7 linked regions of the Homo sapiens genome follow. The protein of the gene in region 1 purifies or fractionates together with the protein of each later gene. This does not show direct contact. Each region holds a gene or a part of one and is shown in the gene's direction. Other genes may lie near its edges.

The links.
Region 2: the proteins of DUSP22 (region 1) and PTPRG purify together in Homo sapiens (affinity purification with mass spectrometry; 2 studies listed by BioGRID and IntAct, with this or other methods). This does not show direct contact.
Region 3: the proteins of DUSP22 (region 1) and HPCAL1 purify together in Homo sapiens (affinity purification with mass spectrometry; 2 studies listed by BioGRID and IntAct, with this or other methods). This does not show direct contact.
Region 4: the proteins of DUSP22 (region 1) and MTCH2 purify together in Homo sapiens (affinity purification with mass spectrometry, with the first as the bait; one large-scale study listed by BioGRID). This does not show direct contact.
Region 5: the proteins of DUSP22 (region 1) and CCNYL1 purify together in Homo sapiens (affinity purification with mass spectrometry; 2 studies listed by BioGRID and IntAct, with this or other methods). This does not show direct contact.
Region 6: the proteins of DUSP22 (region 1) and INPP5A purify together in Homo sapiens (affinity purification with mass spectrometry; 2 studies listed by BioGRID and IntAct, with this or other methods). This does not show direct contact.
Region 7: the proteins of DUSP22 (region 1) and RAP1A purify together in Homo sapiens (affinity purification with mass spectrometry; 2 studies listed by BioGRID and IntAct, with this or other methods). This does not show direct contact.

Annotation. Positions count from the first base shown.
Region 1 is NC_000006.12:344,487-347,986, forward strand, and holds part of DUSP22 (dual specificity protein phosphatase 22), read left to right. Parts: intron 1-1,367; coding exon 1,368-1,442; intron 1,443-3,500. UniProt on the Homo sapiens protein: Dual specificity phosphatase; can dephosphorylate both phosphotyrosine and phosphoserine or phosphothreonine residues. Activates the JNK signaling pathway.
Region 2 is NC_000003.12:62,271,571-62,275,070, forward strand, and holds part of PTPRG (receptor-type tyrosine-protein phosphatase gamma isoform 1 precursor), read left to right. Parts: intron 1-1,375; coding exon 1,376-1,511; intron 1,512-2,127; coding exon 2,128-2,274; intron 2,275-3,500.
Region 3 is NC_000002.12:10,305,904-10,309,403, forward strand, and holds part of HPCAL1 (hippocalcin-like protein 1), read left to right. Parts: intron 1-3,500. UniProt on the Homo sapiens protein: May be involved in the calcium-dependent regulation of rhodopsin phosphorylation.
Region 4 is NC_000011.10:47,636,060-47,639,559, reverse strand, and holds part of MTCH2 (mitochondrial carrier homolog 2), read left to right. Parts: intron 1-508; coding exon 509-593; intron 594-754; coding exon 755-861; intron 862-3,500. UniProt on the Homo sapiens protein: Protein insertase that mediates insertion of transmembrane proteins into the mitochondrial outer membrane. Catalyzes insertion of proteins with alpha-helical transmembrane regions, such as signal-anchored, tail-anchored and multi-pass membrane proteins.
Region 5 is NC_000002.12:207,735,640-207,739,139, forward strand, and holds part of CCNYL1 (cyclin-Y-like protein 1), read left to right. Parts: intron 1-1,771; coding exon 1,772-1,807; intron 1,808-3,500. UniProt on the Homo sapiens protein: Key regulator of Wnt signaling implicated in various biological processes including male fertility, embryonic neurogenesis and cortex development. Activates the cyclin-dependent kinase CDK16, and promotes sperm maturation.
Region 6 is NC_000010.11:132,645,787-132,649,286, forward strand, and holds part of INPP5A (inositol polyphosphate-5-phosphatase A), read left to right. Parts: intron 1-81; coding exon 82-182; intron 183-3,500. UniProt on the Homo sapiens protein: Phosphatase that specifically hydrolyzes the 5-phosphate of inositol 1,4,5-trisphosphate to inositol 1,4-bisphosphate, and inositol 1,3,4,5-tetrasphosphate to inositol 1,3,4-trisphosphate. Plays a crucial role in the survival of cerebellar Purkinje cells.
Region 7 is NC_000001.11:111,699,789-111,703,288, forward strand, and holds part of RAP1A (ras-related protein Rap-1A precursor), read left to right. Parts: intron 1-3,500. UniProt on the Homo sapiens protein: Counteracts the mitogenic function of Ras, at least partly because it can interact with Ras GAPs and RAF in a competitive manner. Together with ITGB1BP1, regulates KRIT1 localization to microtubules and membranes.

The DNA of each region.
Region 1 (3,500 bases):
GACATTTTGCCCCGGCTGGTCTCAAATTCCTGAGCTCAAGTGGTCTGCCCACCTCAGCCTCTTCAAGTGCTAGGATGATAGGTGTGTGCCACCGCGTTCAGTCCATTTAGGACTTCAGAGTTTGCAGAGCATATTGGCATGTATTACCTCATCTGCCCTGTGAGATACCAGCCCCACTTTATAAATGAGAAGATAAATGGCTTGTCCTGGGCCACACGGTCCAGTAAATGGCAAAGAGGGATTGGAGCCAGAATTTCCATTTCCCCACAGCTCTCCACTGAGCTGCAGACAGGACTGCCAAAGTCCCGGGAGACCAGTTTGAGAGAATGCTTTTAGATTTTCCAGATTGCCAGGAGTAAATCAGCTTTTAGGACTTGGAAAGCCCACACGACGTGGTCACCTTCCTCACCTGCGTCACGGTGGCCTGCACCATCCACAGCTGGTGTGAGGGTTCCTGCTGTGCTGCTGGGGCATTGAGGGGCTCCGATTGAACATGGGGGGCGCCGTCCAGAACTTCCCTCAACCCCAGTCTGTGGTAACTATGTGTTTCAGGGATTTCTTACAGAGAAATTCCAAAACTTCCAGACAACCCACAGCCTTCCCTAGACCTCAGCATTGTAAATAATGGATTCTGAGGCTGAGACAGCTCCAGCCACAGACAGTATGACCAGGTTTTGATGGTATGGGACTAGGAGAGCTTTCAGTAAACCACAGGAAGAATAAATTCTGGTTTCTTTCTTTTTTTTTTTTTTTTCCTCTGTTGCCCAGGCTGGAGTGCAGTCGTGTGATCTTGGCTCACTGTAATCTCTGCCTCCTGGGTTCAAGAAATTCTCCTACCTCAGCCTCCCTGGTAGCTGGGATTACAGGTGTGTGCCACCACACCCAGCTAATTTTTGTATTTTTAGTAGAGACAGGGTTTCACCATGTTGGCCAGGCTGGTCTCGAGCTCCTGACCTCAAGTGATCCGCCTGCCTCAGCCTCCCAAATTGCTGGGATTACAGGCGTGAGCCACCGCACCCAGCCATGTTCTGGTTTCCATTACCTGGTGGATTATTTGATTATAGCAAATAATAATGTAGTATATGTTTCAAGATAGCTACAAGAGAAGCTTTTGAATGTTATCACTACAAAGTGATAAATGTTTAAAGTGATTAAGCATTTATCAGGTAATTATCCTGATTTGATTATTATACAATGTATACATGCATTGAAGTGTCACACTGTAGCCCATAAATATGTAGAATTATGTGTCAATTATACAAAAAAATCAATTAACATTTTAAGAAAGAAGCCTCAGGTAGAATTTTCTTTTCATCATATATTGAGTAAAGTAGAGAGATGTCATTTCTCTTTTTTTCTTTTCCCAGGACAAGACATTTCAAAGAAAGTATTAAATTCATTCACGAGTGCCGGCTCCGCGGTGAGAGCTGCCTTGTACACTGGTACGTGTGTCTCTTGCTTAATAGCGCCTTAGCGTATTCTGGTCGGCTTGGCTTCCCATCAAGTGTTTTTCCGTGTGTGAATAATGGTTTCACCTCCTAATAGTTTTCTGTAAACCCTGACTCTCAAACGCGTGCTCCATTTGTCCAGCGCTGTGTGTTAGTCGCCCTTTCCTTCTGTTGAAGGAGAACCCTAACTCGTTTTGCTTTTGTTTTTTTCCCATTTCCACTGCTAGGATTTCTGTAGGGACCGTGAAGGTTACTGGACAACAGAAACTTCCCTTTGCTGGCTTGCCTCCAGCATTTCATCAGAACAGCCTCTTACAGATGACCCAGATTCTGTAGGCTCATCCTTGAAACCTCAGTGGCTTTTTGAAGACACTGTTGTTTTTTCTTCAGGAGACTTGATTGCAAATGTGGATTTTCAGTATCGCGCTACTGTGACACCAGAATGACCCAGTTTAGTGACGGCTGTCTGTTTGCATCCTGCTATATTTTGTGTAGACACACACACACACACACACACACACACAGTGAAAAGAAAGCTACTGTATCACGCTTAACCCGAGGATGATGCATCTGAAGCGCTTGGCAGTGTGCCTGGCACATAGAGAGTTCTTAGTGAAAGTGGGATGGCATTTTTATGACCACTCGTAATCATGCTAATAACATGGCTAATTTGTTCAGGGAACCAGTAGCCAAAATTCAGGAGCCAAGGCTCTGTTGTCTAAGTGCTAGGCCGGACATGTCCCCTCTCTGTCTTGAATGAAGTGTGTTATTAATTAACTGGAAGCCTAACAGTCTTTTGACATTCCCCGAAACAGTTCCTCTTGCACTGTAAGCTCTTTAGGACTGTGAAGTGATAACTCCTGGGGAATATTGCTGCTGAGGTTGGTGGCAGCCCTGCCAGGACAGAGGGGACCCAGGGACCCAGTGCATGACATCCAGAGAAGCCACCTATGAAAACTATAATGTGTTCTGAGGGCCGATAGGGACGACAGGGAGGACGCTAGATAGTTGAGTTGTTTTTAGAATGGTGTCTGCAGTTTCATACAGTTCTTGAAATCACATGATTTTTCATCTCACTTTTTTAAAGAGTAGAAAGTGTAATAAATACAAATGGTAGGATTTTAACGTTCATTTCTGTTTGGCTTTAACATACCTTGGGGGTTCAATTGGAGCCAATTAAAGCGGAATTCTGGAACTCCCACTCCTGGGCTTCTCCTGGCTCCTAGTGAAGGTGAATCTCCAGGGTTGCAGCCCCAGAGGATCTGTCTTTTAAGATCTCTCCTGGTAGTTCTAATCTAAAGCCCTAGTGAAGAGCCACTACTTGAGAGTGGGGTTTTAAAATTATTGTTTATATTTGAATATGTGTAGGCCTGATATTCTAGGAATTAATACTTCATACAGTTCTGTGCACCTAAAGATAGGCTTTTCTAAAAGTGAGACATTTGCTGAACTTCCCCATCTTAACCTGTTGCTAGAACTCTCTAAGTCTGATGAAGCACAGCCATTCTGTGACCGCCTTCATTTGCATGTACATGTAAAACGGGTCTCACTCAGCCTGCTCCAGGTAACTGACCCTAACCGTTACTGCCTGCAAGGGTGCCTTGCTCCCACCCTGCGGACACAGTGTGCCTGCTCTGTACTCTGCATATTTATGTCAGGAAGAGTACAAAAGTAAGATTGGGTAAGGGCTTCTCTACATCATGGGCTTTAAAAATTATAGATCTAGCCCTCATATAGCTGAGAAAACTCGACTTTTAAGGAACATGAAGCATTCTAAACAAATGTAGGTTATAAATGGGTTTGTCGCGTAGGCCCTGGAAGCCTCGTTTCCTTGGAGTACCTCAGTTATGTCGTTTGTCCGGGGAAATGGGAAAGACCTGAGGAGGGGCTGAGGAGCAAGGGAGCATCTGGAGCCACAGCCCATAGAAAACCAATAAAAGAAGCTCAAACAGCAGAAGAAAGCATGCGATTCTAGTGCCAGGAAGCATAGGGAGCTGGTACGTTGAGTGCTGAGTGGCTTCCTGGTGGCGAGCTTGCTGTCCACATATAATC
Region 2 (3,500 bases), on another chromosome or scaffold:
CAACATGTGAAATAGATGGGGCAGGGGACTTAGGCCTCAGTGACCTTGGACCACAATGATTGCTACTGCTTTCACTTAGAAGCTGAATCTTCCACTGGAAACTGGGATGGATAAGACCTATGATAGTCTTAAAGAGGCTCTATTCCTGTAACATTAAGAAATCATCTGCTGCTTCTGTGATTTTTAAAAAACTAGATCAATCCCTAGTTTTTATAAAATCTTCTTATTAATAATATCAGCCAGGCATGGAGGCCAACTCCTGTAATCCCAGCACTTTGGGAGGCTGAGGTGGGTGGATCACTTGAGCCCAGGAGTTTGAGACCAGCCTGGGCAACAAAGTGACACCCCATTTCTACAAAAATTAAAAATAAAAAAATTAGCCAGCATGGTGGCACATGCCTGTGGTCCCAGCTACATGGGAGGCTGAGACAGAAGGATCCCTTGAACCCAGTAGGTCAAGGCTGCAGTGGGCTGTGTTCACATAACTGCACTCCAGCCTGGGTGATGATAGAGCAAGATCATGACTCAAAAAAAAAAAGAAAAAATTACAAAATCCCCATTGTTTATAGGAAAATTGTAGCCTGATCCTAATAAATAAAAATATGACGTTAAACACAAGAACTTTCCACACTAGAATAGAGATTGTGTTTTTGTAAATGGCTTTTCTGAAAGGTTCTTCTAAATAACAATATTTATAGTATATATGAAAATATTTCATTTTTAAATTTTTAGTTTAAATGTTCCATATAAAATACCTTTTCAAAAGCACTGGGAAATCCTTGTATAAAGCTTGTTTTTTGTCAGCCACAGTAAATGACTTTAGTTGGTTGTTTAAAAATGCTTTTATTCTGTTTCATTTGAAAATGCATTCTTGCCTCTTTTTTGTTTGTTTTAAACTTTGGTACTCAAATACATGTCGCTTGTTCTGTGATTTATGTTGCAATGCTAAGTGAATAACGTACGTCATCTAAGGTTATCTAAGTGGGGTTTAGGCTGGGAGTGGTGGCTCACACATGTAATTCCAGCAGTTTGGGAGGCCAAAGTGGGCAGATCACCTGAGGTCAGGAGTTCGATACCAGTCTGGCCAACACGGTGAAACCTCTACTAAAGATAAAAAATTAGTCGGGTGTAGTGGTACACATCTGTAATCCCAGCTACTCGGTAGGCTGAGGCTCGAGAATTGCTTGAACTGGGAGGCGGAGGTTGCAGTGAACCGAGATTGCGCCACTGCACTCCAGCCTGGGCAACAGAGTGAAACTCCATCTCATCTCAGAAAAATAATAAAATAAATGGGGTTTAGATTGGAATTTTTCGAATCCAAAGTTAACAGTATGATAAAACAAAAGTGCCAGTTGAGTGTCTTCATTTCTTACAGTGCTGGTGTGGGCAGAACAGGCACCTATATTGTAATAGACAGCATGCTGCAACAGATAAAAGACAAAAGCACAGTTAACGTCCTGGGATTCCTGAAGCATATCAGGACACAGCGTAACTACCTCGTCCAGACTGAGGTAAGGAGTAGCTGCCAGCGTCCTCACGACATTCTGGCAAATGCTGTAACTGAAATTTGTTAAATGATAATGAAGAGACAGATTCATTCTTTTAGGGCTTGCAGTAATTTACAGGTTTGTATTAGAAGATATTCTGACAATGATCCTATTCTACGGATCACAGTTTTCCATTTCTGTATGGATCTTAACATTTGGATTCCTAAATAACTACACAAGTACTTACGAAAGAGATACAGTTGTTTCAAGAGCTGTGTTAGATGGTAGGGGGAGTTAAACATGTTGTCTGGCCTGAGAAATACATAGGAGAGGATGGTTCTAAAACCCTTCATTGAACACGATTTTTTGTTTGCTTATTGAGTTGAAGCAATAAGCACAGTATAGAATACCGTGATCCAGGCACAGTATAGAATACAGAGCTAAACTTAACACAGTCTCTACCGTAAAATAAGTTAAGACTGATAAAGTGAGTATTGGAGCAAATCACCTAGCTGTAAGTGCTTGAAGGAAATCACTGGGAGGTCCCTGTTAGCAGCAGAATTAAACTAAGGTACACTTCATGAATGAGTGGCTAACCCTTAACACTCCCTCAGTGACTACCATGTATTGTACCTCTTAGGAGCAGTACATTTTCATCCATGATGCCTTGTTGGAAGCCATTCTTGGAAAGGAGACTGAAGTATCTTCAAATCAGCTGCACAGCTATGTTAACAGCATCCTTATACCAGGAGTAGGAGGAAAGACACGACTGGAAAAGCAATTCAAGGTAGTGCTTTGAAAAAGTTTCTTTGGCATAAAGCAAGAAAATGTTTTAAATGCCTTGAGTTTGGGGGTTATGTCTTCTTTGCATTAATGTATACACCGAAATGGATTACTATTTGTACTCCTTGTACTCCTTAAATGTGATGAAAAAGAAAATACGGTTTTGACCTATGTATGAATTGTTGGTATTCAAGTAGATATACAGTGTTGTATTTTCTTCTGAGCAATTTATGACTTTATCTGAATATAAACATCAGCCCCTGGCCATAATGACATAGTACTTTAAAGTAACTCGTTTAGTCCAAAAAATGTCCTATTTTTTCTGAACTAATCTATCTTACCTTAATTATTAAGAATGATGACTTGTAGACATATTGTCCTAAAAATATGCCTATTTCAAAAACTATTTCAGAAGATAATTTAGGAATTTAAAAAGAATTACTAAACAATACTAGAGAAAAGTTAACTTTTCCTAAATGGTTGTTCTTTTTCTTTGATAGGGACATGAAGAAGCTTAAAAGCGGTTAAGGTTTATATGGAATTGACTGAAGTGAAGGTGAAAAAGAGAGATTATAAGGACTATTAAAATAATTAGGGCTCAGTCATCTGATAATAAATCAAAATTGCTTCTAACTTTCAAACATCGCCTGTCTCTCCAGTTACCAAGTGCTTTCCTATTTATCTTTGTCTTTTAAATTCTATTTTGCACATTGTTCTGTATGTAAATAGTTTCTCCCTTTGTATCAAGATTCAAAGAATGAGATGAATCTACAGTTTTAGTTTTCATGGTAAAACTTTCCATAGACTGAAACTTTCATTTGAATCTCAGCTGAAGAAATGAGACTGCCAAGCAAATTATACCAAGTGATATGAAATGAAAAATAGTTTAATTTCACTGAGTTCAGTCATAAAATTAAAAATTTTTAGCTCCCCATTAACATTCTACTATAAAACCATGAGATAATTAATAATGAGGACACAGTGTATCATTTTAAATGTTTAACATGAGTTCTTACAAAATATTAAGTACCAACATTTCTTAAATTCTGCCTTTTTCGTTTCTTCAATTTTTTTTTATACATACTTTAAAACTTCATTTAAGAAATGCGACCAGGTAGTTGGTTCTTTTACAGGCACTAACCATTTTAGAGCTCAAGATGAAGAAAAAAACAAGAATCAAACTTGAAAATGAAAATTATATCCAGGGACCATGAGTTTTACTAAAGCATC
Region 3 (3,500 bases), on another chromosome or scaffold:
TGTTGAAGCGCTGGTGCTCACACCCCCTACCTTCAGGGCTCTGCAAGCACAGTTCCAAGGTCTGCAGCGCGGGTACAGTGCATGCCCTGCTGAGTGTGCGTCAGAGCAGTTGTCTCCCTGTGACACTTATTCTAAGACCCTTTTTGCTACTCATAAGTGGTAGAGTACCACACTCACTCATGAACCAGTGATAATCCAGGGTACTAACGGGGGCCCCGGAGTTTATTTGGCACCGAAGATTAAGCTACTTGGCAGCTGAATTTTTATCTAGATTGGGGTTAGGTTTGTATTAAAATTTTGCATTCCAGCAAGCCCTAAACCGTGCTTGTTCATTGTGGGATAATGCGTTCAACTGATGAGTTGCCAGGCCAGGATTGATGGGGGATTATGTGTATTCTGCTAGTTTGTCAGCACCTGATGTCACTGTGCTGGGGGGTGGGGGAGGCATGTTTGGAGTTAGGATGAGCAGACACTTGTAGATTTTAATCACACTCTACTTTGGGGCTCCCTGCTCTCCTATGGTAGCAGGGGGTTTCTGTGTCGTTCTTATGTCCTCATGTAAAGCTGCACATCTGTGAATGTCAGGTAGCTCTTGTGCTTTTCCCCTTAGATTGAGTTTCTAATCTGGGAATGACAGAGGGTGGCTGTATATGGAGACAGCAGCATGGGCTTAGGGGCTCTTTTGGTGCCAGTTACCCTACGGAAAAAAGGTTTCTTCAAATCACTTTCTACAAAGACTAAAAAATGGTTGGAATCTAGTGGTGCAGATTGTAATATGACTTCAGGTAATCAATACGGTTTGACAGGTGGAACATTTCTTAGATGCTGATGAGCAGGGCGCAAGTCTCAAGATTTTTAAATCATCTGAAAAGCACAGTAAATCCTTTAAAGAGCCCTACCTTGGCCATGTTGTTTCAAGTAAAATTGAATTTCAGAGGCAAAGCTTCACATCGGAGGCATGACGAACTAAAGAAATCCTTCCCAGAGACCTCCACTCTCTTCCTGTTGCCACCCTCCTCTGCCAGCAGCAGGGCAGGAAAGATGACTTCTTGGGGCTGTGTGCCTTTACCTTAAGAAGCAAGTGCACCCTGAATGCTTCTAATCCCGCAGCTGGGTTGTCTGGGTATTTGGATCTTTTTGGTGCTTGAGGTACTACCCAAGTTGGCAGGAAGCCAGGAGCCTGGGGGTGGAGGTGTCTTAGCCCCACCTGTGGCATGAGACAAGAGGTCTTCTCCAGCAAGGGATGGGTCTCTGACCCTTGGCTAAGAAAACTCAGGATTGTTAAATACGTACTGCATGGATAAGGTTGCTGTGACCCTGAAAAAAGGAAGAAGGCTTTTGGGTGGTGCGTGGTTCTCCTCTTGGAAGTCTTCCCAGATTTCGCCTCAGTACTCTCTTGCCCTAGCTTAAATCTTTCCTTGCTCTGTGTCCCCTTAGGCAAGTGAGGTCTCCTCTCAGGTAGGCATGATATTAAGTGCATGTCTAGAGGACAGTTCCTTCTACCTGCCCAGGTGCACTGGCTGAACTCACCTATGCCCACATCTGTGCATTGGCAGGTGATATAGATATACACCTGAGCTGTCCCCCTGAGCTGCAGACCTAACACTAGGTGTGGGCTCCGAGCTGTTCCACATCAAAACAGAGCCGAGGACACATCTCCCTCACTGAAGCTGTGTCTCCTACCTATTATGGTCAACACGTCTCATCTACTCATTTGTTAAAGCTAGAAATCTCTGGAGAGTTTTGGAGCTCTTTCTCTGTCTTCACTTGAAATCTCTGGAGAGTTTTGGAGCTCTTTGTCTGTCTTCACTTTGCCATCTAATTGGGTCAGCCCTCTCTGAGGGCTCACACCCACTCTTCCGGCACAGCGGAGCCTTATCTGCCCTTGGCCCAGAGAATGCTTCCAGTTCCTTCACTCCAGCCACACCGGCAGCACTTCCCAGTTTAAAACGCAGATTTCATCATCCCACTGTCTTCTGCCTCCCCAACCCCACCAAACCTTGGTTTGTTCTCTTAACGCAGTAAGTGCTTCTGATACCTACTGTGTGCCTTGGACCAAGCTGGAGTCTGAGAAGGTTGGGCCCAGGCATCCTCCCTACCTGTGCAGAGTTTAAGGTCTTGGGCTGGGGGTTGTATGTGGGGTACCTATCAAATAAGACCAGGGAGCGTGAAGTGCTATGGAGGGGAGCTCCTACCCCAGTATAGGGGGCTCCCTGGAGAAGCACCCTCTAAGCTGATACCTGGGAGAGTTGGGGGTGCAGGGGAGGGGTTGGAGTTGGGGCTGGATTGTTCGATGCCTTTCTTCTGTCTCACCCAGACTTCCTTATCTGCTAAACTCCTACTCATTTTTGTTTTAATTAATACCAAGATAGAATTTATCTCTCATAAAGCATGCCCATTCTAAGTGTACAGTTTAATGATTTTCAGTAAATTAATAGAGTTCATAGCCATTACCACAATCCAGTTTTGGAACATATCCATCACCCCAGAAAGATCCCTCTTTTGTACAAACTCCCTGTCCCCGTCCTCAAGCCGCCAGTCCCCCACAGATTTGCTTTCTGTCTCTAGATTTGCCTTTTCTTTCTATGTTTCTTAGTGTGTTTTCATAGGTTCGGCCCAAGAGCTGTTTCATTTGGGCCTTCCTAGAGTCTTCTAGTTAGAATCAATTTATCCCCCAGCACCGACGAAGTGAGCTGGGTGCTTGGCCATCCCGCTGCTAGATGGCGAGCTCTCTTACCTGCCTCTCCTGCCTGCACCTGGCTCAGCACTGGCACCTACAGAATACCCAAGGTGTGTTGGCTGGACCAGCTGAAGTTGTGTTCCTCACATTTCTTTTGTATAACTCCTGAGTATCTAGCAGAGTGTGGGGATTTAAAATACAGCGCATGTATTGATGTGTCAGGTGATGTGAGCCCTGCTACATACATACCTTAACTTGTTTCATCAAGAACTTGTGAGGCAAATGGCAAATCAAAAACAAAAACAAACAAAACAAAACAAAACAAATCTATTTTCTAAGCCAGGCACAGTGGCTCTTGTCTGTAGTTCCAGCTACTAGGGGGTGCTGAGGTGGGAGGATTGCTTGAAATCAGGGATTTGAGCCTGGGCAATATTGTGAGACCCTGCTTCTTAACAAACTTTTTTTTTTTGAGATAGGGTCTTGCTCTGTTGCCCAGGCTGGAGTGCAGTGATGTGATCCCAGCTCACTGCAGCCTTGAACTCCTGGGCCCAAGCAATCCCCCTGCCATAGTCTCCTGAGTAGCTAGGACTACAGGTACACACCACCATGCCTGCTGATTTTTAAATTTTTTGTGGAGACGAGGTCTTGCTATGTTGCCCAGACTGGTCTTGAGCTCCCGGGCTCAAATAATCCTCCAGCCTTGGCCTCTCAAAGTGCTGGAATTATAAGTGTGAACTACTGTGCCTCAGCCCAAGCCATTTTTCTAAATGAAAAAACTGAGGAGGCCCAGAGCAAATAAGTAGCCCAAGGGCATCAGCAG
Region 4 (3,500 bases), on another chromosome or scaffold:
GACCGACAGCCTGTTCTTCTAACATGAAGTTAGCTTGTAATTCTTTCCTAAGTGAATTATCCAGCTATATCTGCATTTGCCTTTTGAGTGTTTTGTCTGGGTTGCCAAATATGCAGCTGATGCTGGCGTAATGGATGTCTTCTAGTTTTGTTCAAATACAAAATGTGCCTTAGATTTTATTTAGAAGGTATTTTTGAGCCCCCTTAGTAAACTGTAGCTTTCCTAACGCAAAAGTTCCCTTCTTTCAGTTTGATATTAGCCTATTTCAGCTACATGGTTTACGTCATAGAATTTGAACCAAAATGAAACTTGGAGTTTATTGAACTCAGTATTACCAACAGAAGAAAAACCTACAAGAATGATGCTTCATCATTGCCTTGGAAAACCTATGCTGCATTTTTACTTGTGTTTAAAAATAACCCAAATTGTGTTCTTTATTCAAGACCTTGCAAGCAAGACATTTCTGGAAATATTGCTTTAATATTGATATATTCCATTGTTTTTAAAGGTGGGATATGAGCCTCTTCCTCCAACAATAGGACGAAATATTTTTGGGCGGCAAGTGTGTCAGCTTCCTGGTCTCTTTAGTTATGGTAAGTGCCTTTGATTTATTTGGGTTTGCATGACGTTGAGGACTGTGATAGGCAGGAGTTGTTATTGAAAGAAAATATATAGAAAGCTTGTTTCTTTGAAATTGTAGTATATCCATTTCTCTTGACCAGAACTTGACAACATCTCTGACTTGTGTTCTTAGCTCAGCACATTGCCAGTATCGATGGGAGGCGCGGGTTGTTCACAGGCTTAACTCCAAGACTGTGTTCGGGAGTCCTTGGAACTGTGGTCCATGGTAAAGTTTTACAGGTAAGAGGAAAATTAAATCAATCTTCCCATAGATGTTGCTTACCTGTTATGCATAGTTTGTTCTAAATATCAAGAGCAATTTAAAAGATACATTTATAACCCTGTCCTTTCTTCCTCTTGAAAAACACTTTCTTTTTTTTTTTTTTTTTTTTTGAGATGGAGTCTCACTCTGTCGCCCAGGCTGGAGTGTAGTGGCGCGATCTGGGCTCACTGCAAACTCCGCCTGCCGGGTTCACGTCATTCTCCTGCCTCAGCCTGAGTAGCTAGGACTACAGGCTCCCGCCACTGCGCCCGGCTAATTTTTTGTATTTTTAGTAGAGACAGGGTTTCACCGTGTTCTCAATATCCTGACCTCGTGATCCGCCCGCCTCGGCCTCCCAAAGTGCTGGGATTACAAGCATGAGCCACCGCGCCCGGCGGGACTCAGTGAAATTGTTGCTGTTACTTCCATGAAATTTACATATGGAAAGGCAGTTGTCATCTAGCCAAAGAGGTTTGTGTATAGACTTAGAGAAAAAGAGAAAGTGCTGCTTGAGACTAAGTTACTTTATGTAACTGTAAAGTAAGACAAACTTGAGGTAACCAGGTACCCTGAATATGTTCCAAATGTAGTCCAGTGAAATATTACAGGGTTGGTACTACACTTAGCATCCAAAGCTGCTTGTACAGTCAAGAAGAAGGATCTATGCAGGGCTGAGAAAATTATTAACCTTTACAAGAAATAATTTTGTAAACTGAACAAGAATTAAAATGAAATTCAGGAAATGTAGAAGACAGGTTAGATAATTATATCGATGGAGTAAATAACAAAGTATAGAAACAAGTGAAAATTTAGAGACCTGAAGCTATTAGAATTAATTCTAGCCAAGGACCTGGAATTTGGCCAAAATACATTACTTTGCTTTATCTTCACATTTGTTCTCTTGCCCGTGATTTTTTTAAACACAATTCTTTTTACAAGAGAAAATGTTGTCTATTTTTGAAATCTGATATGGCTAGAAAATAATAAAACTGACATTAAAAAATAAGAAAACAATAAAACTGGTGGTTACACAAGAAGGAGCTCTCAATTGATAATTTTATTTTCACCTAGCTCACATTCTATTTCCAAAATACGCCACAAAAAATTCCTCTTGCAAGAATTTTTCTCTGGGCTCTGGCAGTATTCATGATCTCTTCTCTAGAAGAGAAAAAAAAAACCTCTTGCTTGTTTTAGAAACCATCAGATACAAAGGAGAAAGTGAGGCGATTTCAGCTCTTCAGTCTTAATATCAATTCTCTGTCCTTTTATGCAGGGAAGAAAAGAGTCTTGCCCTAATTTGGTATTGGTCATGCGTTTTCCATGAGAAAAGTGGGAACCCTGGGCTATGTTTTTACTGACTTATTTTCTGTTAAAACTGAAAGTTCTTGGCCAGGCGCAGTGGCTCATGCCTGTAATCCCAGCACTTTGGGAGGCTGAGGCGGGTGGATCAGCCGAGGTCAGCAGTTTGAGACCAGCCTGGCCAACATGGTGAAACACTGTCTCTACTAAAAATACAGATGTTAGCCAGGCGTGGTGGTGGGCGCATGTAATCCCAGCTACTCAGGAGGCTGAGGCAGGAGAATCGCTTGAATCTGGGAGGTAGAGGTTGTAGTGAGCTGAGATTGAACCATTGCACTCCAGCAGTGAGCCGAGATTGCACCATTGCACTCCAGCTGGGTGACAAGAGTGAAACTCCATCTAAAAAAAAAAAAAAACAGAGTTCTTGAATTTTCTTTTTTGTTGTTGTTCTTATTTTGTAATTATTTCTTTAAATTTATTATTATTTTTTTAGAGACAAAGTCTCACTATGTTGCCCAGTCTGGTCTTGAATTCCTGGGCTCAAGCAGTCCTCCCTCTTCGGCCTTCCAAAGTGTTGGGATTACAGGCGTGAGTCACTGCGCATGTTCCCTTTTCGTTTTTTGGGTTTTTTTGTTGTTTTTTTTTGAGACAGAGTTTCACTCTTGTTGCCCAGGCTGGAGTGCAATGGCATGGTCTCGGCTCACTGCAGCTTCCACCTACCGGGTTCAAGCAATTCTCCTGCCCCAGCTTCCCACGTAGCTGGGATTACAGGCACCTACCACCACGCCCAGCTAATTTTTGTATTTTTAGTAGAGAGGGGGTTTCGCCATGTCAGCCAGGCTGTTCTCAAACTCCTGACGTCAGGTGATCCGCCTGCCTCAGCCACGCAAAGTGCTGGGATTACAGGCGTGAGGCACCATGCCCGGCCCCTTTTCTTTTTTTCTGAGATGGAGTCTTGCTCTGTTGCCCAGGCTGGAGTGCAGTGATGTGATCTCAGCTCACTGCAGTCTTTACCCCCCGGGTTCAAGCAATTCTCCTGTCTCAGCTTCCCAAGTAGCTGGGATTACAGGCGCCCGCCACCAAGCCCAGCTAATTTTTGTACTTTTAGTAGAGATGGAGTTTCACCACGTAGGCCAGGCTGGTCTCAAATTCCTAACCTCAGGTGATCCACCTGCCTTGGCCTCCCAAAGTGCTGAGATTATAGGCGTGAGCTACCGCACCCAGCCTTCCCTTTTCTTTTTTTTTTTCTTGAGACGGACTCTTGCTCTGTCACCTGGGCTGCAGTGCAGTGGCGTGATCTTGGCTCACTGCAACCTCT
Region 5 (3,500 bases), on another chromosome or scaffold:
TAGATTGCCTGAGCTCAGGAGTTTGAGACCAGCCTGGGCAACACGGTGAAACCCCATTTCTAGTAAAATACAAAAAAATTAGCCAAGCGTGGTGGCGTGCACCTGTAATCCCAGCTACTTGGGAGGCTGAGACAGAATAGCTTGAATCCGGGAAGCGGAGGTTGCAGTGAGCCGAGATTGTGCCATTTTACTCCAGCCTGGGCGACAGAGCAAGACTCTGTCTCAAAAAAAAAACAAAACAAAACACACAAAAAGACAACAAAAAACACTCCTCATGCCCCAAGTCATACCCGATGCCAATTAAATCAGAATGTCTCAAGTTGGAAGTTAGGCAGTTTTTAAAGCTCCTCAGGTGATTGCAGTGTGCAGAAAGTTTGAGAACCACTGCTTAATTGAATGTAGGAGGATGAACTGCTTCTATTTGGTGGGACCTTGGGCAAGTCAGTTTTAAGCCTTGGTTCCCATATCTGTAAACTGGGTGTTGGATTAAATGTCATGTAAGGTTCCGTGGTCCTTTTCAGCATATAACTTCAAATTCTGTAATGTTAAAATCAATTTGGACATGAAAATGTTTGAAGCACTATAGAAGTATCCATCTTAGATGCTAATGTTACAGACTTTTTAAAAAAGTGCTAACATTGTATGGACTTAAAATTCAGATTTGCCTTCCCTCAATTATTTTGAGCCTCAGTTTAGAGACTGAGGGCAAATGGAAGCATATAACTTACCTAAGACAACTCCTTGTTTCCTGATACACAACATCTGTGGGTAATTTAGGAATACAGTAACATATATCTGAAAAGTCGTGTCTGTTCACTAATATTTTACTTAAACCAATGTGGAAATACTTGCCATTAATATTACACTTTGTAGTTTTATGCTGCATTGTTAGCACTGCTTATTTCAGGATAGCTACACCTATCATTGGTTTTGTGTGCACTTATTTACTAATAAATTTTCTACTAATGATGCAAAATTGATCATAAATGATTTTATTTGGTATAAAACACTTTTATTTACTTTAAGGGGAAATAATGAAAGATGGGTGGGTAGGTGATAGTTAATTAAATCAACTGAAATGCAGAGCCTAACAGCTTAAAAAGCAAAAAATAAAAATAACCAAAAAACCAAATAGTTTAAATTTAAGCATGTATACAAATAGGTAGAACTTGTATAAAATGAAAGGTTCTATGGGCAGAAGAGCAAATGGGGATATATGTAATTATTTATATATTATAATAGTCCACAGAAACATGTATTTTAACAGCATATTACTGGGTTTTTTTTTTTTTTTGAGACGGAGTCTCGCTCTGTCGCCCAGGCTGGAGTGCAGTGGCACGATCTCGGCTCACTGCAAGCTCTGCCTCCCGGGTTCACGCCATTCTCTTGCCTCAGCCTCCTGAGTAGCTGGGAATACAGGCGCCTGCTACCACGCCCGGCTAATTTTTTGTATTTTTAGTAGAGACGGGGTTTCACCGTGTTAGCCAGGATGGTCTCGATCTCCTGACCTCGTGATCCACCTGCCTCGGCCTCCCAAAGTGCTGGGATTACAGGCGTGAGCCACTGCGCCCGGCCTTACTTAGCATTTTGGTTCGTGTATTTTTGCTGAAAGGAACTAAAACAAGGGGAAAGTACCCATATGGTACTGTTCTGAACTAGAGGATTTCAGGGCCGCTAGGAGGGTTCCTCCCTTCCCTCATTTAAAAAATGTCTTCAGGCCTAACAAATGTTTAAATCAGTTGTTAAAAATAATTTTTTTTTCCCTTCACAGTGTGACCTTAGCAATATATTACCACATAAAGAACAGGTGAGCTCCTTTAAAACCTGTCTTGTTATTCCAGCTAATTACTTTGCATGATATCAAGTTCAGTATTAGGTCATAACTATAGACATCATAAGCTATAGATTGCTATTACAGTATTGAACTGAATCATTTGTGGTTTTTCTGGTCCCCAAGATGGTTTCAATTATTAAATTACTGAGGATCCCAAAGAGTATTTGTTTATGTTGGTTATATTGATATTTATTGCATTAGAAATTGAAGTTGAGAATTTAAAAAAAAAAACCCTATATTTAGTTTCAGTTTCTCAACGTTGGCACTGTTGATATTTTGAGCTACATAAGTCTTTGTTGTGGGGACTGTCCTGTGTATTGTAGGATATTTAACAGCTGTCCCAGGTTGTGACAACAAAAATATAACCCCTGACTGAGAATCATATTGTTAACATAAATAATATTTTTTCATGAAAAATAACTCTCTTCTACAACAACGAAGTTGAGTAAAATGTGTCATGTATTTATATATATACAACTCTCTAGTGTCCAGCTTAACAGAAAACAGCTGGATTCTCATCTCTGTCTTTGCAATTAGTTTTTTTTTTTAATTTCAACTTTTATTTTAGATACAGTGAGTACATGTGTAGGTGTATTACGTGGCTAATAGTGCACCCTGGTAGTGAGCTGTAATTTGTTTTGAAGAAGTGATAAGAAGATGACCTAGCCTCACGCAAATATATAGTTGGTAAAAGGTATATTTTTAAAGCTTTCAGATGGTTGTGGGTATTCTTTATTTTTTAGTTTATTTTTATTTGGTTTTTTTTGAGACGGAGTCTTGTCTGTTGCCCAGGCTGGAGTGCAGTGGCACGATCTCGGCTCACTGCAACCTCCACTTCCCAAGTTCAAGCGATTCTCCTGCCTCGGGCTCCCGAGTAGGTGGGGTTACAGGCGCATGCCACCACGCCTGGCTAATTTTTGTATTTTTAGTAGAGATGGAGTTTTGCCATGTTGACCAGGCTGGTCTTGAACTCCCGACCTCAGGTGATCCACCCGCCTCAGCCTCCCAAAGTGCTGGGATTACAGGCATGAGCCACCATACCCGGCCAGTATTCTTTAATACTACCCAACACTCCACAAGTGCTAGTTTCTTAAAATGGTTACAGTGGAATTTTGTGTTATCAATGAATTTTTTATTAGTACTCACCCATCTGTCTTGTACAATATATGTATCATTTCCCCTTACTTGGTTTTCTAATATTATGCATTGGTTATATGGAAAATATTGGTTCACATCTCTTCTTTCTTTTTTTTTTCTTTTTTTTGAGACAGAGTCTCATTCCATCACCCAGGCTGGAGTGCAGTGGTGCAGTCTCAGCTCACTGCAACCTCCGCCTCCCGGGTTCAAGCGATTCTCCTGTCTCAACCTCCCAAGTAGCTGAGATTACAAATACATACCACCATACCAGCTAATTTTTTGTATTTTTAGTAGAGACAGTGTTTCACCATGTTGCCCAGGCTGGTCTTGAATTCCTGAGCTCAAGCAATCCGCACACCTCAGCCTCCCAAAGTGCTAGGATTACAGGCGTGAGCCACCATACCCAGCCTGGTTCACATTTCTTGACAGTGGCAAAGCTCACTTTTGTTAGTATCACCACCAATTGTATTAAAAAATCTTTAAGTATTGAGAAGCTGTTAAACTCACATAATAAGGTACAAGTTTCTCC
Region 6 (3,500 bases), on another chromosome or scaffold:
GGGGGCGGTGGAGGGGGTGGTGCCACGTGTGGCTCTGTGGACGGCTCCGACGACCCTGACAGTGTGCTTCTCTCCCTCCAGGTCGTGCACACACACAAGCCGCACTTCATGGCCTTGCACTGTCAGGAGTTTGGAGGGAAGAACTACGAGGCCTCCATGTCCCACGTGGACAAGTTCGTCAAGTAAGTCTAGGGGCAGGTGCTGGTGCATGTCCACTTCCCAGGGGTGTGGGGTGCCGGCGGGGGTCTTTTCATGGTACTATGATCACCAGCCTCACCATTCGGGACTCACCTGGGGGTCATCTTGGCTGAGTCTCAGTTTTCCAAAGAGAGGAGTGGCCCAGACGTGTGGCCACGAGCCTCCTTGGGGCGGCGACAGAAGGCCACGGAGTGACAGCCTGCTGCCTCCACACGGCGAGGGTCTGTGCTCTCGGGCCAGGGGACGTGAGCCCCAGATACCAGTGGAGCCGTCTCCGTGTGTGTGTGTCTGAGGCCTGGGCCTGTGGTGGCCGGGGTTCACATCCCACTGCGCAGTCTGTCTCAAGGAGGTCGGCAGGGAGCGTCTATCCTCCTTGGGGGCGAAATCTCCATCGTTTAGGAGGAAGGTGCCCCACGTGTATTCCCACTGTACATGCCCTGAGGCTTCTGACAGGGCCGGCCCAACTGGGTCCTGCCTGGGAAGAGGGGGCGCCCGGACCTGGGGCATCCAGGAGTGGACAGGAGCAGGCAGGGGCAGGCAGGCTTGTGTTCAGACATGGGGCCTCCTATAGGCTGTTGCTAATAGTGGCTGCTGTATTTTCCCGAGGCCGCAGCCGTGAAGCCCGCCCTCTGTGTCCCCTACAGTGTGGCCTTGGCACATTCCCATGTTGGGGGCTCGTCTCCACCTCCAGACCCTGGGCAAGCCCTGGCTTCTTCACAGCATGAGGGCTTCTGGGACCAGCCCCCAACATCGCAGAGCTTCACAAAGCTGCCACACTCTGTGGGCCGACGCCGCTGCCACGCTCTGTGGGCCGACGCCGCTGCCACACACTGTGGGCCGACGCTGCTGCCACGCTCTGTGGGTTGACGCTGCTGCCATGCTCTGTGGGTCGATGCAGCCACCCGGAGTCGGGACCTGTGGGCAGAGCCGTCGAGCCCTCCCGGCCTGGTGCCAGTGTGAGTGTGAGCGAGGCTTCAGGCGATCCCAGCCGCTGCATCCTTGCTGTGACATAAGCCCTCCGTGTTGAACTCCCAGCGCAGGGTCCTCGAGCAGAGCAAAGTGGTTTCAGCTGCTAAAAAAAACTGCCACAACTTCCCAAAATAATCTGTAATTTAAGGCATTTTTTTTTTCTTTTTTTTTTTTTGTTTTGAGACGGAGTCTCGCTCTGTTGCCCAGGCTGGAGTGCAGTGGCGTGATCTGAGCTCACTGCAAGCACCGCCTCCTGGATTCATGCCATTCTTCTGCCTCAGCCTCCCGAGTAGCTGGGACTACAGGTGCCCACCACCACACCCAGCTAATTTTTTTGTGTTTTTTTAGTAGAGATGGGGTGTCACCATGTTAGCCAGGATGGCCTCAATCTCCTGACCTTGTGATCTGCCTGCCTTGGCTTCCCAAAGTGCTGGGATTACAGGCATGAACCACCATGCCTGGCCAGTTTAAGGCAGTTTTAATCAAAATCTTAGCGGCATTTTTCCTAACACTCAACAAACTAATACTAAAATTGCCATATAAGAGCAAAGGGTCAAGAATAGTTAAAAGAATCCTGAAGGAAAACAAAGTGGGTTCTCACCCAGCTCGACCCCAAGGCTCATTCCGAAGAAGCAGTGGGGCAGGTGGCATGACGCAGGCCCGGAGAGGAGAGCGGATCGAGGCAGGTGCGCAGCCCAGAGAGTGGAGAGCGGAGTCGAGGCCCCACCCAGACCCTCGCGGCTGCCTTGGAGGAGGGTGGGTGGGGACATGGGCTGGGGCACGGCATCATTGGTGTCCTGTTGGGAAAAATGAAATTGGATCCCTGCTTTGTGTCATAAGCAGCCACTTCTCACTCACCCTACATAAGATGAATTTCAGTTGTATTAATTATATAAATGTAAAAGGCAACATTAAAAATTTCAGTCTAAAATATAGGAGAAAATATAGTTTTGGGATGAGAGATTTCTTTTAAAATGTGCAGGAAGTGCAGCCTACAGAATGGAAGGCTGAAAAATGTGGCCATGTTTGAACTAAGCATTTGCTTATGAAAAGGCACTCAAAATGAAGTCACTCAAAATGAAGTCACTCAAAACAAAATCAAAATTCAGCCACTTCGGGAAAAGATATCTGCAGCACACCTTACTGACAAAAACGAGTGTTTAAATATATGAAGAACTCAGTAAGTCGGTAAGAGAAGGAAAGCAGCCCCTGTTGGGAAGCACCTTCCAGAGGAGAGAAAGTGGGGGTGCACCCTGAGCACGGAGGACGCCGCCCTCACAGCAGGCGGGGACACCGCAGGCCGGACGGGAACGATGCCGCCGTGTTTGGTGTGAGAGCTTCACAGTGGAGTGTGGCCCCCACGGCCTTGTGCCCCCGCGATGCCGTGTGTGTTTCCTTCCTCCGCGCTTTATGCCTAATGTACAGCGTTATGATTTTTGCTTTAAACAATTTTCTTTTTAAAAGATTAAGACGTGAGAGAAACGCCCTTGGTGTGGACCAGTTCACTGGCTTTCAGTGCCCTCCGCCCTTTTGTGTGGATTCTGCTTTTTATCTGGCACCCTTCTCTCTCTGCCTGAAGAACGTTCTTTAACATTTATTTTAGCACAAGTCAGCTGCTCATGAATTTTCTCAGCTTTTGTTTATCTGAAAAAGGTCTTTGTCCTCATTTTTGAAAGCTGTTTTTGTTGTAAATAGAATTCTAGCTTGTCAATTTTTTTTCCTCTCACTACTTTAATGATATCGCCCCATTGTCTTCTGTATTGCATTGTTGCTGGCGAGAATCTCGCCATTGTTCTCTCTTAATTTTCTTGTATATAATGTGCCCTTTCCTCCACTGCTAGGTTTTGTCTTTATAGCTGGTTTGCAGCAACCTGATTATGTTGTACTTTGCTTTGATGTTCTTTATGTTTATCTTGCTTGGGGCCGTTTGAGCATTTGCAGTCTGTGGGTTTATCGTTTTAATCAAATTTGGGGAAAATTTGTCCTTGTCCATTATTTCTTTAAATACTATTTTTCTTTTCCTTCCCTTCTCTTTTGTTCTTAGGCTCCAGTTACCTGATGTTAGATTGCCTGGTTCTGCCCCACAGGGCCCTAAAGCTCTTCTGATTGTTTTCAGCTCATTTTCCCTGTGTTTCGGTTTGGATCGCCTCTGTTGCTGTATTTTTAAGTGGCTGGGCTCTTTTCTGTTGCAGATTTTGATCTTCTCTTAGGTCCATGCAGTCAGTTCGTTTTATTTCTGACATTGTGTTTGTCCACTCCTTCCAGAAGCCTCACGTGTGCTTTCCCTGTCCTCGCTTTTCCTTCCGTCTGTGCGTTCCTTTCGCTGTCTGGTC
Region 7 (3,500 bases), on another chromosome or scaffold:
CTTCAACTTCGTTACAACCTGTAGTCCATTTATCCTAACATCTTTTTATTATCCCTTATATCTTCAACCCCCTCTGCATATAGCTTCAGGTCCACGGTCCATCATTTATAATTCTCTTGAATATATCCTCAACTCCCTTGACTTTTCAGCAGCCTTTGACTCAGTTTATCATTGCTTTCTAATGTAAAACCTTTATTCATTTGGCTTCCAAGAAACAATACTTGCCTGATTTCCTCTGTCTCATTGGTTACTCCTAAGTCTCCTTTCCTAATTCCTCTTTATCTCCCCTACCTCTTAATGTTGGAGGACCTCAGGGTTCAATACTTGCACTTCTCTTTCCTAACAACACTGCTTTGGAGATCTTGTAGTTGCTTGGTTTTAAATACAATCTGTATGCTGATAAATACTAACTTTGTAACCCTGTCTGTATTAGGCCGTTTGCATTATTGTAAAGAAATACCTGAGGCTGGATAATTTATGAAGAAAAGAGGTTTAATTGGCTCATGGTTCTGCAGGCTATACAAGCATAGCTCCAGCATCTGCTTCTGGTGAACACCTCAGGAAGCTTACAATCATAGTGAAAGGCAAAGAGGAGTAGGTGTTTTACATGGCAAGAGCAAAGAGTGAGCGGGAGATGCCACACACTTTTAAACAACCAGATCTCACGAGAACTCATAATTGTGAGGATAGCACCAAGCTATTCATGAGGGATCCACCTCCATGACCCAAATACCTCCCACAGGCCTCACCTCCAACACTGGGGATTACATTTCAGCATAAGGTTTGGAGGTGACAAACATCCAAACAATATCCCTATCTCTCATTTCTTTTCTGAACTTCGAGCTCTTATATCTAACTGCCTCTTCAATATCTCTTTTTGTATGTCTTATAAGCATCTCAAATATAACATGTCCAAACTGAACTCCTGATAACCTTTCCCTGACCTGGGTCTTTCCAGTCTTTCCCATCTCAGTAAATAGTACCTTTTTAGTTGGTTATGCCTGAAACCATGGAGTCGTCCTTGACTGTATTTTTTGTTATATTATGTGTACATCCAAACTCTCAGAAAACCCTACTGGCTTTACCTTAAAAACTTACCCAGAACTCAGCTACCACCACTAGAATCTAATGACACTATCTTGGTCTAAACAGTTGTCATCTCTCAGCTGGATTATTTCAATAACCTCAAAACTGATCTCCCTGCTTCTCTTCTTCACCCCCTTCAGATTGTTCTCCACACAGTAACCATCATAATTCCATTTAAATGTAAGTCAGATCATGTTTTCCTCAGCTTAAATTATGCATTAAACTCAGAGTAAAAGCCCAGGTCTTTATTACATTTCCCTGAAAGGTCCAAATGAGAATCCTCTCTCTTTGTCCCTTCTCTGGCCCCCACTGCTATACTCACCCACTAGGTAACAATGTTTCAATGAATCCAGCCTCCTTACAGCTTCTCATACACTTTAGACATGTTTCCCTTTGGGGCCTTTGCATTTGCTCTTTCCTGTGCTTGGGGTAGTCTTCCTCCACATAACCATAGAGCTTATTCCCTCACCTCCCTCACATGGTTGCTCAAATGTTACCCGTGAGGCCTTCCCTGAGCATAGTCTTTTAAAATATAACTTTATATTCCTACCCTCAAAATAAACTCCCAACCTTTACTTTTCTCTATAACATTTATTACCATCTTGCATACTTGATTTTTGTCTGTCTCCATGTATACTCCTCCAGGGCAGAAATTTTTGCCTCTCATGATCACTAACATATCCATAGGGCTACAACTATGTCAGTGGATATTTGTTGTGAATGGATGAAACTTGTAGAATGTCCTTAAGAAGGAGGTTGGCATTCTCAATAGGAGGGAACACCAACCACAGCAGTTCTGTAAGGACTTTTCTTAAACTGGATTTTCAGAACTCAGGTTGCCTGTATGTTTATTCTTTTGATTTAATAAGAAGCAGAGACCATGATCTCTAGAGAACATCATAGAAATAGTGTTGCTAGTATTTGTAGCACTTAACATTTGTAAGTAAACTCATTTATTATATAAACATTTGGACAGTGGCAGAATTTAATTGGTTACCATAGTGGTGCAATTCTGGAATATGCAAACTTTATCAATGAAAAATCCAGGAAACTTCCAGTTTTTACATCTTTCCCAGAAAATACACTGGCAGCAGTATAGGAAGCTCAGCCATGTTCCTGTGGCACACCTTAGACGAATTTGAAGCTGGGGAAATGGCTGAGTGGTAGCATAGCTAACTCCCTGGAATACAAGAAAGAGTACATCAGCCAGGGTAGAACAACCAGAACTATTTTAGATGTAGTAGACAAAATAGAGGTAGTGGTCATGGGGAACAAGGAAGCCAAGGCACAACAAGCTTAAGAAACTTTGTGGATTTATCTTTTACGTTTAATGCATCCAGAGGTAAAAAGATCCAAACTGTATAGTTATTTAATATAAAGACCCAAGACATACACATTTTTAATATTCTGCCATATGTGCTTTTTAAGTAATATATATATATAATACCAAAACTTTTCTAAAAGAAGATTTTGTCTTATATTAACCTCCATAGTTACAACATAAAGTAATGATTGTCACCAAATAAAAGGAAGTTTAAAATTAAGTAATTTTAATTTGGCATGACTAAAGCTCAGTAACTAAATGTTAACCATTAGTAAATTTAACTAAAGGGGATAGATAGTCATTGCACTATTCTCACATCTTTTCTAAAGGTTTGGAATGAGGGGGAAAATGAAAATACATGAACAAGCTCTTTTTTTTTTTTTTCCGAGACAGAGTTTCACTCTTGTTGCCCAGGCTTGAGTGCAGTGGTGCGATGTTGGCTCACTGCAACCTCCACCTCCCGGGTTCAAGTGATTCTTCTTCCACCAAGTAGCTGGGACTACAGGTGTGCACCACTACGCCCGGCTAATGTTGTATTTTTAGTAGAGGCAGGGTTTCACTGTGTTGGCCAGGCTAGTCTTGAACTCCTGACCTGGGGTGATACACCTGCCTTGGCCTTCCAAAGTGTTGGTATTACAGGTGTGAGTCATTGCCCCTGACCATTAACAAGCTCTTATAAAGAGTTTATTGACTGTCAAGATGATAAAAATATTGCTATGCCATGGGAATAGAAAAAGAAAGATGATAAAATCTGCCAGTAGAGATATTGATTCTGGATGATGAAGTCATAGTTTAGTATTGGGCTTATACCTCAGATTGTTAGCACTTGGGCAGTAGTTGTGTCATAAATTTGCAAATAAAATTATTTAGGATCAAAAGATCTGTTTCTAAAAAATTATATACAGCTCTAAATCACACAAAAGCAAATTAAAGTGGTTAAGAATTCCTTTTTAATTCTAGTTTACTGTCATTGTTTCTAGTCACCTCAGTTGCTAGAAACTTGTGTTATGTCTTGTTTTCTGTCAGGATAGCAAGTAATAAAAAATGTTACTCACTTGTAATTATGCTGTTTTAAATTGTTGCAGTATAC